2 linked regions of the Homo sapiens genome follow. The protein of the gene in region 1 interacts with the protein of each later gene in a pairwise test. Each region holds a gene or a part of one and is shown in the gene's direction. Other genes may lie near its edges.

The links.
Region 2: the proteins of SEPTIN7 (region 1) and CENPE interact in a two-hybrid assay, tested with the Homo sapiens proteins (one study listed by BioGRID).

The regions. Positions count from the first base shown.
Region 1 is NC_000007.14:35,901,802-35,907,650, forward strand, and holds the end of SEPTIN7 (septin-7), read left to right. Parts: intron 1-1,274; coding exon 1,275-1,414; intron 1,415-2,452; coding exon 2,453-2,492; 3' UTR 2,493-5,309; downstream 5,310-5,849.
Region 2 is NC_000004.12:103,139,061-103,146,355, reverse strand, and holds part of CENPE (centromere-associated protein E isoform 1 precursor), read left to right. Parts: intron 1-248; coding exon 249-527; intron 528-674; coding exon 675-833; intron 834-1,021; coding exon 1,022-1,306; intron 1,307-1,737; coding exon 1,738-2,025; intron 2,026-2,949; coding exon 2,950-3,108; intron 3,109-4,447; coding exon 4,448-4,606; intron 4,607-5,251; coding exon 5,252-5,542; intron 5,543-5,941; coding exon 5,942-6,100; intron 6,101-6,276; coding exon 6,277-6,567; intron 6,568-7,295. UniProt on the Homo sapiens protein: Microtubule plus-end-directed kinetochore motor which plays an important role in chromosome congression, microtubule-kinetochore conjugation and spindle assembly checkpoint activation.

The DNA.
Region 1 (5,849 bases):
TTCATTTAAAAAAAATAACTAGAGACATTTTCTTATGTTCCTACTTTCTGACATTTCTTAGTAACTTGTTTGCTGTCATCAGGAAGATATCACCTCAGATTTGATTCATGTTTGCTTAAGTGTGTCTTAGGTGATTTTGTTTTGTAGGAATTGCATGAAATAATTGAAATAGGAATAAATCTGAAGTCACTTCGGGCTTGCAAAAAAAAATTGTATGCAAAATTATAGTAACATATATAATATGTATATAATATATAATACATATAATAGTTATATATTAACATTATGTTAATGTTAACTCACCAGTGTAGTAAAATCTGTAACAGAACATAATTCCTGGATAACTGAAGGTTTTGAATAGTCCTTGGGTATTTGGCATAGAAGGATTTAATCTGATTTTTAAAATTTGTTGACTTTTTTTTTTTTCAGAAATGGATTGACTTGCACCTAAATGAAATTACTTATCTAATGATCTCTTGGACTTAAAGCACTTTGTTTCTGCAGTTACTTCGCATGAGTGTTTACTGCCTCTCAGTCAGCATTCTTTACAGTATTAATACACAGAGAAGGAAGGACCAGCTGCATTAGAATCACTGTAACTTGTTGAAAATCCACATTTCCAGACTTAACACCCAGATATTCTAATTCAGTACGTCTGAGTGAGGTCCAGGATTCTATATTTTTAACAAACATCCCAGGTGATTTGCATGAAGACCAATGTCTGAGAACCACTGCTTACAGGAATCAGAGTACTTTGCTGGCATCTTTGAGCTCTTAGGGTCCTAAACTACCTGCTTTCTTTTCACTTGTCTTAGCTTTCTAAACTTGGAATTAGGAGGCTTATTCAAGTCCTGGTTCTTCCACTTTCTGGCTAGCAATCTTGGGCAAGTCACTTAAATTCTGCAACTGTTTCCTCATCTGTACAATGAGAACAGTGATGTGTTCACTGCCCAGCCTCCAACATATTTGTGATTAAAGAAAAACGAGATAAGATAGTAATTTTCCATTATAAAGTACTCCACACTGTTAAGTTTGTTGCTTTTTTTTTTTTTCCTGTTTCCCAAGATTATTGTCTTGGGTCACTGGCCTTTTGGGTGGCAGGTCCTAAAGGAGGAGGAGTCCTTGACCAGAGTACTTCCAGGTAGTACTCTGAATTTACAACAGGGCTATTCAAATAGTGCTCATACTCCTTATCATTAGGGTGTCTGGATGAAACATACCTCTGCTTCTGATTTCTTAAATAGTTTTGTTTTATATATTGTGCTATGATTTAGCTCCAGCGGCGCCATGAGCAAATGAAAAAGAATTTGGAAGCACAGCACAAAGAATTGGAGGAAAAACGTCGTCAGTTCGAGGATGAGAAAGCAAACTGGGAAGCTCAACAACGTATTTTAGAACAACAGAACTCTTCAAGGTAACTAATAGCAGATTACTAAGAAATGTGTGTATTAATGTTTTAAAGAATTGTTTTCCTACTTATTTAAAAAACATTAGAATAACACTTAAAAAGTCATCACCCATTATCATGCATTCCAAACACAATGGTTTTCATAGATAAATATTTTTATATGGATGGATACAGTCTGTGTCCATTAGCAGTATTTTTTCAGTACATCTTTCATGACTTAATATTCATAATTATGATTTAGCAACTTCATAACATTCTCCCCAGTTAACTTACCTTCATTGGATTTCTTACCTCCTCCCCCCAGTTGTTGGACATAAGGGTTGTTTTCAATTTTTGGCACACAAAGGGAACATTCTTCAAAATCTATTACATATTTAGGGGTATGTTTTAACTGTTGAATTATGTTTTTACGATAAAATTCTTAAGACAAAATGTTAGATATTTGATTTCCAATACAACTAATCAATTACTTTCTCTTAATTTATACAAAATTCAATAATATTTGTACCTTGGTTTTCTTTTCCTTAATAGTTTCACTTAAAACTGAAAAGTGGCATTCCTATAAGGATTATATAGTTTATCCTCATTACTAAACATTTTCAGATTTGACATTTGTTCTACTACACTACCCTACTGTTAACATTTTCCCCAAAGAAGAGGAAAATAGATTTGTGAAAGCAATTGCACTTCAAAATGCAAATGACAGTGGGGGAAAAAGAATACCCTGTTTGCTGCCAGTTGATACTTTTTAGTTTGTGCTGTTTCATTTGGGAAGAATTGTTCTTGTATATTAAAATGGAGTTTTGCCTTATTTTTTTACTGCTTATCCTGGAGTTTTGTCAAATATTTGATTGTCTAAGAAAATGCTATTATAGATTAACATTGTCTTAGCTGTTTACTTCTAAATCTTTTAATTTTTTTCAGTGAAAAAGTAGTATCTGAAAATCCCAACATTGTTGTAATTGGGTTAGCTGTTGTTATCATGTTGTCTATCATGTTTATAAAATGGTTACTCATCTTGCTTATTTTCCTTTTATCCTTTAGAACCTTGGAAAAGAACAAGAAGAAAGGGAAGATCTTTTAAACTCTCTATTGACCACCAGTTAACGTATTAGTTGCCAATATGCCAGCTTGGACATCAGTGTTTGTTGGATCCGTTTGACCAATTTGCACCAGTTTTATCCATAATGATGGATTTAACAGCATGACAAAAATTATTTTTTTTTTTGTTCTTGATGGAGATTAAGATGCCTTGAATTGTCTAGGGTGTTCTGTACTTAGAAAGTAAGAGCTCTAAGTACCTTTCCTACATTTTCTTTTTTTATTAAACAGATATCTTCAGTTTAATGCAAGAGAACATTTTACTGTTGTACAATCATGTTCTGGTGGTTTGATTGTTTACAGGATATTCCAAAATAAAAGGACTCTGGAAGATTTTCATTGAGGATAAATTGCCATAATATGATGCAAACTGTGCTTCTCTATGATAATTACAATACAAAGGTTCCATTCAGTGCAGCATATACAATAATGTAATTTAGTCTAACACAGTTGACCCTATTTTTTGACACTTCCATTGTTTAAAAATACACATGGAAAAAAAAAAAACCCTATATGCTTACTGTGCACCTAGAGCTTTTTTATAACAACGTCTTTTTGTTTGTTTGTTTTGGATTCTTTAAATATATATTATTCTCATTTAGTGCCCTCTTTAGCCAGAATCTCATTACTGCTTCATTTTTGTAATAACATTTAATTTAGATATTTTCCATATATTGGCACTGCTAAAATAGAATATAGCATCTTTCATATGGTAGGAACCAACAAGGAAACTTTCCTTTAACTCCCTTTTTACACTTTATGGTAAGTAGCAGGGGGGGAAATGCATTTATAGATCATTTCTAGGCAAAATTGTGAAGCTAATGACCAACCTGTTTCTACCTATATGCAGTCTCTTTATTTTACTAGAAATGGGAATCATGGCCTCTTGAAGAGAAAAAAGTCACCATTCTGCATTTAGCTGTATTCATATATTGCATTTCTGTATTTTTTGTTTGTATTGTAAAAAATTCACATAATAAACGATGTTGTGATGTAATATTGTGTGAGGTCTTAAATATCCTACAGTCGATGTACAAGAGTAGAGTATGTTTGGGAAGAAACTTTTCAGCTTAAGTTTGCCTCCTCTACAATGACATCTTTTATATGCTTGTCTCATTTAGAATGCATATGTGCTGATTTTCTAATTTAAGAGATACCATATCTCTCTATTCATTTCTATCTCTCATTTGTATGCTTATTTTTCTGAGAACATTTTTTTTTTCCCCCAGACAGGGTCTTGCTTCATTGCCCAGGCTGGAGTGCGGTGGCACAAACACGACTTGACTGCAGCCTCAACCCTCTGGGCTCAAGCAGTCCTCCTGCCTCAGCCCCCTGAGTATCTGGGATTGCAGGCGTGCACCACCACGCCTGGCTAATTTTTGTATTTTTTGCAGCCTCCCAAAGTTCTGGGATTACAGGCATGAGCCGTCATGCCTGGCCTCTGAGAACAGTTTCTGACTCATTCAGATTAGGTATACTCTCAAGTCCCTGGAAACTGAAATTTTTTTTAACTGTAAAGAGGGTAGTGTCATTTCTTTTCTTAAGGTCAAGTGACATAGATTTTAATGTAATGCATAATTTAGGTAAGAAATTAATTAATGTAGCCTAGTTTATTATCTTGAAATGTTTTACCCTATTTACTTTTTAAAATTAATGACCTAAGCGGAGGGAATAATTATAAGTCAATAGCAGAGAGATTGTTGTTTGGGTGTTTATTTTTTTCAGTTTTTGTTTTGAGAGATTGGGTTAACACCTCTAGCCAAAATTGTTTGGTTTTAGGGAGGCTAACAATAACCTACTGAATTTGGAAAATGCAAAGGTAAAAAATGTATATAGACTGCCTGCTGAACTGGTTAAGTACTACTGCTTCTGGGAAATACTATTTCAAAATTCTATGTATTATAATAATAAATTTGTAAGACATTCATTATTCTACCATCCTAATGAAAACTTTCAGAAGTCTTTCTTTATCCATGGCATGCCCAGGGTTTTACCTGAATCTGATACAGGATCTATATAACTTTACTAGGACTTTTGATTGTTGACTCCAGGCTTAGGTATATCAGAAGGTTCTTTTTGCCATTTGGCCTGTGGATGTCTGAGAAGATCATTCACAATACATGTAAAATTCAGGTAGGCCTAAGGAAAGGCCAGCCTGTAGAAAGCAAAATGGCAGTGTCTGTTCTCCACTGTTGGAGGCATTATGTAATTTAAGTATCCTGTTAGCCACTGTCTTTCTGCTAATTAAGTGGGGCTGAACAAGTAAGCACTAATAATACCAGTGAACCACTTGGGCACCTTGTGGGTAGAGTTTTGCTGCCACCTAGTGGAATGGGATATCATTGCTTCCATATCAGGTTCACAAGCAAGTTAAGTGGGCACAGTTTATTTCTGTGTAGCTCAGGCTGTAATCTTGAAAGCTGAGGAGATACCCATGCCTCTCAGACTCATTAGCTGGGTGTCACATTACCACCTGCACATTCTGACCCACCGCATCTTAATATGTTTTGTCCTCTTGGAGAAACTAGGAGTAGAAGTCAGGATATGGTAGGTAAGGGGGAAAAAGGAAAGACGGCTTGATAGCTATGAATGCATGAGGAGCGAAATGTTGACTCAGTTATCTAGATCATGGTCTCCAAACCTGATGCTATTTCCTTACAAAAATATTTGTTGAGCATGTGTCCATAATTATATGTATTGAACAATGAAAATATGTGTCAACAAATGTACTGCTACACTAATGTGAACATTATGGAACAAAATTTGAAAGAGTGAAATAAAAGGTTTACACTTTCCCCAAGCTCCAATGAATTATTACTTTGCACGTTGGAGGCCATCGATCTAGGCAGTATGTGGATAGTTAATAGTTATTGTTGAATCACCAAGGAAGGTCCTAGTGAAGACTGCTGTGGTGTCCTACTTGATCTGAAAGGAAAATTTGCCACACCAGTAAATCGAAGTCCTTTCTAATAATAAGCTTGCAAATGTAAGCCCTTGTACTTCATCCAGAATTTTACCTGCCCCTTTTGTAATAAAAACTTCCCATAACTGTCCTGTTCCAGATGGTAACCTAAGTAGTTACATGTGTTATTTAATCCTTAATGATAACAATTGGGTAAGTTATCTCTTAAGGTAACTTATTAATACATTATCTAATAAATGAATAAGTTAAACATCTTAAACCCTGTTTCCTCATCTGCAAAAGGATGAGGAAACTGAGGGTTTAAGATGTTTAGTAGCTTATTCAATAGGTGGTAACTGGCAGAACAAGAGTTTGAACTGGTCTTAGTTACACCAGGGCCTGTGCTTAAATATTACGCCTTGCAAGTACCTGGTCTGC
Region 2 (7,295 bases), on another chromosome or scaffold:
AGAGAGAGATCCTGTAAGTCTCATCATTTTGTCTCCAGCCTCGAATAAGATGCTGACAACACAGTGAGACCTCAATTTTTAAAAAGCATTAAATGCCTGAATAATGGAAGAGTGGGAGAATGGAGAGATTGCTCTGTAAATGAGGCACTGAATCCTGCCTTAATTGTTTTAGAAAGCATCCTGATTTATTTTCCCCTAAAACACAATATCTCTGGATATCAACTGTACTGTTTTATGATTCTCTTAAGATCCAGGAGTCTCAAAGCAAACAAGAACAGTCCTTAAATATGAAAGAAAAAGACAATGAAACTACCAAAATCGTGAGTGAGATGGAGCAATTCAAACCCAAAGATTCAGCACTACTAAGGATAGAAATAGAAATGCTCGGATTGTCCAAAAGACTTCAAGAAAGTCATGATGAAATGAAATCTGTAGCTAAGGAGAAAGATGACCTACAGAGGCTGCAAGAAGTTCTTCAATCTGAAAGTGACCAGCTCAAAGAAAACATAAAAGAAATTGTAGCTAAAGTAGGTTTCATCTTTCACCATGTTTTTAAAAAATATTTTGTAACCAAATATTATTATAAACCCTAAATATTTGGAAAGGGGAGTTAATTACAACAAAATAGTTATAATGTTTCTATAAATTTATTGGAATTTCCTCTAATAATAAAGCACCTGGAAACTGAAGAGGAACTTAAAGTTGCTCATTGTTGCCTGAAAGAACAAGAGGAAACTATTAATGAGTTAAGAGTGAATCTTTCAGAGAAGGAAACTGAAATATCAACCATTCAAAAGCAGTTAGAAGCAATCAATGATAAATTACAGAACAAGGTAAATTGGGGATGAAGAAACAGTGGGAGGAAATGGGTGGGTTTGGAGTAGCTAACTGAATTATGAAGACTACTATTTGGCATGCTTAATTGTTTTGGGAAGCAACCTTTTCCTCTTAAGTTGTGTATGTGTGTGTGTGTGTTTACATATTTTTATGACTATTAACTTATTTTATAATTATGTTTAAGATCCAAGAGATTTATGAGAAAGAGGAACAATTTAATATAAAACAAATTAGTGAGGTTCAGGAAAAAGTGAATGAACTGAAACAATTCAAGGAGCATCGCAAAGCCAAGGATTCAGCACTACAAAGTATAGAAAGTAAGATGCTCGAGTTGACCAACAGACTTCAAGAAAGTCAAGAAGAAATACAAATTATGATTAAGGAAAAAGAGGAAATGAAAAGAGTACAGGAGGCCCTTCAGATAGAGAGAGACCAACTGAAAGAAAACACTAAAGAAATTGTAGCTAAAGTAAGTTCCCATCTTATTTTTTTTTTTTTTGGATACAGAAATAGTGTTAAGGTGATAATGACGGTGTTCATGTTAAGTTTTATTAATTTTCCTCTAATCATAAAGGGACCGGAAATAAAAGAGGAATCAAAAACTGCTTATATTCAACTGAGTACCAGTAAACTGTTAGTAGACAGAATATTTCAGAGAAGACAGCTCAAGTAGCAAATATTCATTGGGATTTAGGAAATTCTGATGGTGAATTACAGGAAAAAGTGGGACTTGTTAAATTGGAAAATGACATCTAATTATTGTTACTCATATCCCTTATGAAAGAAAGTACTACATACATTAGATTACAATGTAAAAATGATTGCCTTATTTTAGGAACAGTTCTTCCTTTTCCTAAAAAAATTCTGCCTATGTTGTAACTTACTTTATAATTTTCTCAGATGAAAGAATCTCAAGAAAAAGAATATCAGTTTCTTAAGATGACAGCTGTCAATGAGACTCAGGAGAAAATGTGTGAAATAGAACACTTGAAGGAGCAATTTGAGACCCAGAAGTTAAACCTGGAAAACATAGAAACGGAGAATATAAGGTTGACTCAGATACTACATGAAAACCTTGAAGAAATGAGATCTGTAACAAAAGAAAGAGATGACCTTAGGAGTGTGGAGGAGACTCTCAAAGTAGAGAGAGACCAGCTCAAGGAAAACCTTAGAGAAACTATAACTAGAGTGAGTTACCATCTCTCTACACCTCTAGTAACTATGACATTGAGTCCTAAGAGAAAAATCTGCCATAGGGTTGGTGGGAGTATAAAATTGGTCCAGGCCGGGCGCGGTGGCTCGAGCCGGTAATCCCAGCACTTTGGGAGGCCAGGGCGGGCAGATCACGAGGTCAGGAGATCAAGACCATCCTGGCTAACATGGTGAAACGCCATCTCTACTAAAAACATAAAAAATTAGGCAGGCGTGGTGGTGGGCGCCTGTAGTCCCAGCTACTTGGGAGGCTGAGACAGGAGAATGGCGTGAACCCAGGAGGCGGAGGTTGCAGTGAGCCAAGATCGCACCACTGCACTCCAGCCTGGGCGACAGAGCAAGACTCCATCTCAAAAAGTAAAATAAAATAAAAAATAATAAAATAAGATAAAATTGGTCCAATATTGAGGAAAGTTGGTGAGGGTATATTTGGAAATACCTTCCAAATTTTTCCAAAGGTTTATTCGTTGATCCACAAGTCCAGTTGTAACTATCCTCCACACATTTGCACAACTGTATAAAGATATTTGTAGGATATTCTTTGCAACAAGTTGCAATAATGAAATAACACAAACAAAAACAGGGAAAATTCTAACCATCCATTGGTAAGGGACTGGTTAAATAAGTGCAGCACATTCACGTCATGGAATTCTATGCCACAAATAAAAAATGTGGTAGAGCTATAGTGCTGATTTGAAGGGTGAAGTGTCCTGTTAGGGAACAGGGTAAGTTCAGGAATAGTGTATCTAGAATGTATTGACATCTAAAAGTAGCTTAGAGGGTGAGAACTAGGAGGCCTCAGAAGAGGGTGGAAGATTTTTACCTCCTGCCCTATACCTTTCTATAGCATGTGGATGGTACTACTCTCAATGTATTATTTTTATTTTTCTATTGATAAAGGACCTAGAAAAACAAGAGGAGCTAAAAATTGTTCACATGCATCTGAAGGAGCACCAAGAAACTATTGATAAACTAAGAGGGATTGTTTCAGAGAAAACAAATGAAATATCAAATATGCAAAAGGACTTAGAACACTCAAATGATGCCTTAAAAGCACAGGTATTTTATTTTTAAGTTATCTCAGTTACTGAGAGTTTGAATCAAACTTTTTGTGTAATGAAACAAGATATGAATTACCCTAAAATTGAAGGCAAGTGAAGACTTACTTGCCTACTCAATTTAGAAACTATCATTGATCTTTTTATATCTACTGATAATCCTAACTTATTGTATGATTATCTCAAGATCCAAGAACTTCAGGAGAAAGAACATCAACTTCTTTTTTTTTTTTTTTTTTTTTTTTGAGACAGAGTCTCGCTCTGTCGCCTGGAGTGCAACGGCATGATCTCGGCTCACTGCAATGTCTGCCTCCCGGGTTCAAGCGATTCTCCTGCCTCAAGTCTCCCAAGTAACTAGGATTACAGATGCATGTCATCACACCCAGCTAATTTTTGTATTTTTAGTAGAGAGGAGGTTTCACCGTGTTGACCAGGGTGGTCTCGATCTCCTGACCTCATGATCCACCCGCCTCGGCCTCCCAAAGTGCTGGGATTACAGGCATGAGCCGCCAGGCCCAGCCTCAACTTCTTAAAGTAAAAAATGATCTTAGGGAAACTATGTATCAAACAGGTCAGTTAAAGAAGCAGTTAGAGGCCTGGAATGTAACTCTGGAAAGTGTAGAAACGCAGAAATTAAGATTGACTCAGAAGCTTCATGAAAACCTTCAGGATGTAAGATTTGTTACTAAGGAAAATGATGGCCTAAGAGGAGTAGAGGAAATCTTTAAAATGGAGCAAGACCAACTTAGGGAAGGCCTTAGAGAAATAGAAGCTAAAGTAAGCTCATTCCTCTCCCTGGCAATTCAATGTATTGTGTTCTTACAGCAATGAACCCTTCTTTGAACCAAGTACTACTGTTGGCAAGAATGAAATGATACAGCCTTTTAAGCAGATAATTTGGTACTGTTCTTGAAAAGTTCAAGTCTGCAATTATCATTTTCCTTACGGACTTTAGCCTACATATATACTGTTAAAGGAGTGTGTGTGTATATACAAACACAACGTATACATATGCCACAGGTTATTTATTGTAGTGATTTTAATTAAAAATCTGAAACAATCTAAATGTTCCTCAGAAGGAAACAGTAAATATGAACAATATATCGAAATACTATGCAACACTTAAAAAAAGTAATATATGTGTAATGTGTTTGCCTCTGGAAAGCAGAAGTAGAGTGTGAAGAGAGGAGGACAGGGAAGAGAAAGCCTGTACCTTAAAAACAACAGCAAAGATATAGAGTAACAGTGTTATTATTTTTACTAAGAAAATATATCACTTTATTTTTTAAAAACTAATATTAAGATATGTCACTGTTTTTAAAATTTCTCTAATGGTAAAGGATCTGAAAATACAAGAGGAACTAAGAATTGCTCACATGCATCTGAAAGAGCAGCAGGAAACTATTGACAAACTCAGAGGAATTGTTTCTGAGAAGACAGATAAACTATCAAATATGCAAAAAGATTTAGAAAATTCAAATGCTAAATTACAAGAAAAGGTATTTTTATGGGGGGATTGTTTGATTGGATATCTAATTTGTTTGTGCCTAAAATTGTTGGGGATATAAAATGGTTCAACCACACTGGAAAACACCTTGGCAGTATTTACTAATGCTGGATGTAGCCTGCCTGAGGCCCAACATTTCCACTTCTTGGGTATGTACATAAGAGAAAAGAGTACGTACATACTTCTATAAAAAGACACAAGAATGTTTATAGCAGCCTTATTCAAAATAACAAAAAACTGAAAACTCAAATGTCTATCAGCAGGAAAATGGATACATACATTGTGATATATAGGTTCAAAAGCAGGCAAAACTGAACCAGGATGATAAAGGTCAGAATAGTGGCTGTCTCTAGGAAGGAGCACACAGAAACTTTATGAAGTGCTAGAAATATTCTCTGTTTTAATCTGGGTTGTAGTTTCATAGATTTACACCTGTGTCAAGAATAATTAAGTTATACATTGAAGATGAGCATGCTTTATATATATTATACCTCAAAAGAAAGTAAAATTCTGTGTGGAATTGTGCAGGATATCAGTGAGAGTAACATGGGTAGACAGTTGTCTTAATCAATTTAGAAACTATTATTTATCTGTCCCTAAAAAGCCACCTAACATATTATTTTATGATTATCTTAAGATTCAAGAACTTAAGGCAAATGAACATCAACTTATTACGTTAAAAAAAGATGTCAATGAGACACAGAAAAAAGTGTCTGAAATGGAGCAACTAAAGAAACAAATAAAAGACCAAAGCTTAACTCTGAGTAAATTAGAAATAGAGAATTTAAATTTGGCTCAGAAACTTCATGAAAACCTTGAAGAAATGAAATCTGTAATGAAAGAAAGAGATAATCTAAGAAGAGTAGAGGAGACACTCAAACTGGAGAGAGACCAACTCAAGGAAAGCCTGCAAGAAACCAAAGCTAGAGTGAGTTGTGTTCTCTCTTTACCCTACCATTATATTCACATATTTGGGCAAAAATACAGTGTTCACTGCAGCGTTGTGTCTGGTGACTAAAACCTAGAAATAATCTAAGTGTCCACCAATAATAAGGCACTATCTGTATAATGGAAAACTAAGCATAAGAATGGGGTATTCTTTTTGTGATATTGATTTAGAAAGATGTCCAAGTGGTATGAAAGGAGAAGGCTATGGGTGAGGCTACCAGCAGAAAATTTTACTTTACTCTTCTAATTTAGGAGGTTGTATAATGGTTGTTTTTAACTGTGAGTGTATAATTTTTAAGATTTTGTTTAAACTCAATCATTAAGTAAAGGTAACGTGCCTTTATATCATTACATTTCTTGATTTCTTCTAACCATAAAGGATCTGGAAATACAACAGGAACTAAAAACTGCTCGTATGCTATCAAAAGAACACAAAGAAACTGTTGATAAACTTAGAGAAAAAATTTCAGAAAAGACAATTCAAATTTCAGACATTCAAAAGGATTTAGATAAATCAAAAGATGAATTACAGAAAAAGGTATGTGTTGTTTTGTTCTTCTTTTGGAAGTAACTGTGCCCAAAATTATTTGTGGAATTAAAAAGATATAGATACAGATATGTAGATAGATATGTGCATATAGAACACAAGTAGACACTATTTGCCTTCCTTGAAGAAACTGCTTACATTCTAACTTGTTTTACAATTATCTCAAGATCCAAGAACTTCAGAAAAAAGAACTTCAACTGCTTAGAGTGAAAGAAGATGTCAATATGAGTCATAAAAAAATTAATGAAATGGAACAGTTGAAGAAGCAATTTGAGGCCCAAAACTTATCTATGCAAAGTGTGAGAATGGATAACTTCCAGTTGACTAAGAAACTTCATGAAAGCCTTGAAGAAATAAGAATTGTAGCTAAAGAAAGAGATGAGCTAAGGAGGATAAAAGAATCTCTCAAAATGGAAAGGGACCAATTCATAGCAACCTTAAGGGAAATGATAGCTAGAGTGAGTTCAGAGTCTTCCTTTGTGTAGTAACTATTAATAAGAATTAAGCTTTTTTGAAAAGAATTACAATGTTTTTATTTCTTTCTCTGGAAATTCCTATGAACAGTAAAGGACAGTGGGAAATGGTTACTCTAATTTTTACACAATAGAAAACAGTTTTAAAAGAAGCAAAAATATTTTCAGAAAATAACATTTAATTCTTTATTTTTATAAACTGTGTTAAAGCAGTCTATTTCCCTTAATATAACATTTTAAAGTTTTTTTTAATCAAGAGATAGCATTATTCTAAATGGAGAAATATTTGAAGGATTAGATTTGTAAGAGAGCAAATATTCCCATTTCTCTACCTATACATGCTGGAGTTCTAGAGTTGGGCTCTTATTGGTGAAGTTAAAAGGAAAAAAGGGAAGATAAATATAAAAATTAAGTTCCTCTGGTATGACTATTTATAGATATTCAGAATCATATATCTTAAAATATCTAATTAAATCCTCTTTTTGAAAGTAACAGAGTTCAGACAAGTTTATTAAAATCTGTAAAAATCTTTTTTATTCTCATATTTCTTTATGTGGGCCTGAACTAAATTTATAGAGAGATTTAATTCATTCATCAAATATTCTTCTAGGTACTGTAGTGAACAAGATAAGTGGGAGAAAATGTTTTTGTTTCACTTTATACTTTTTAATCAGAAATGCAAAATGTACACAGGATATGAACTTTTCCAAGGT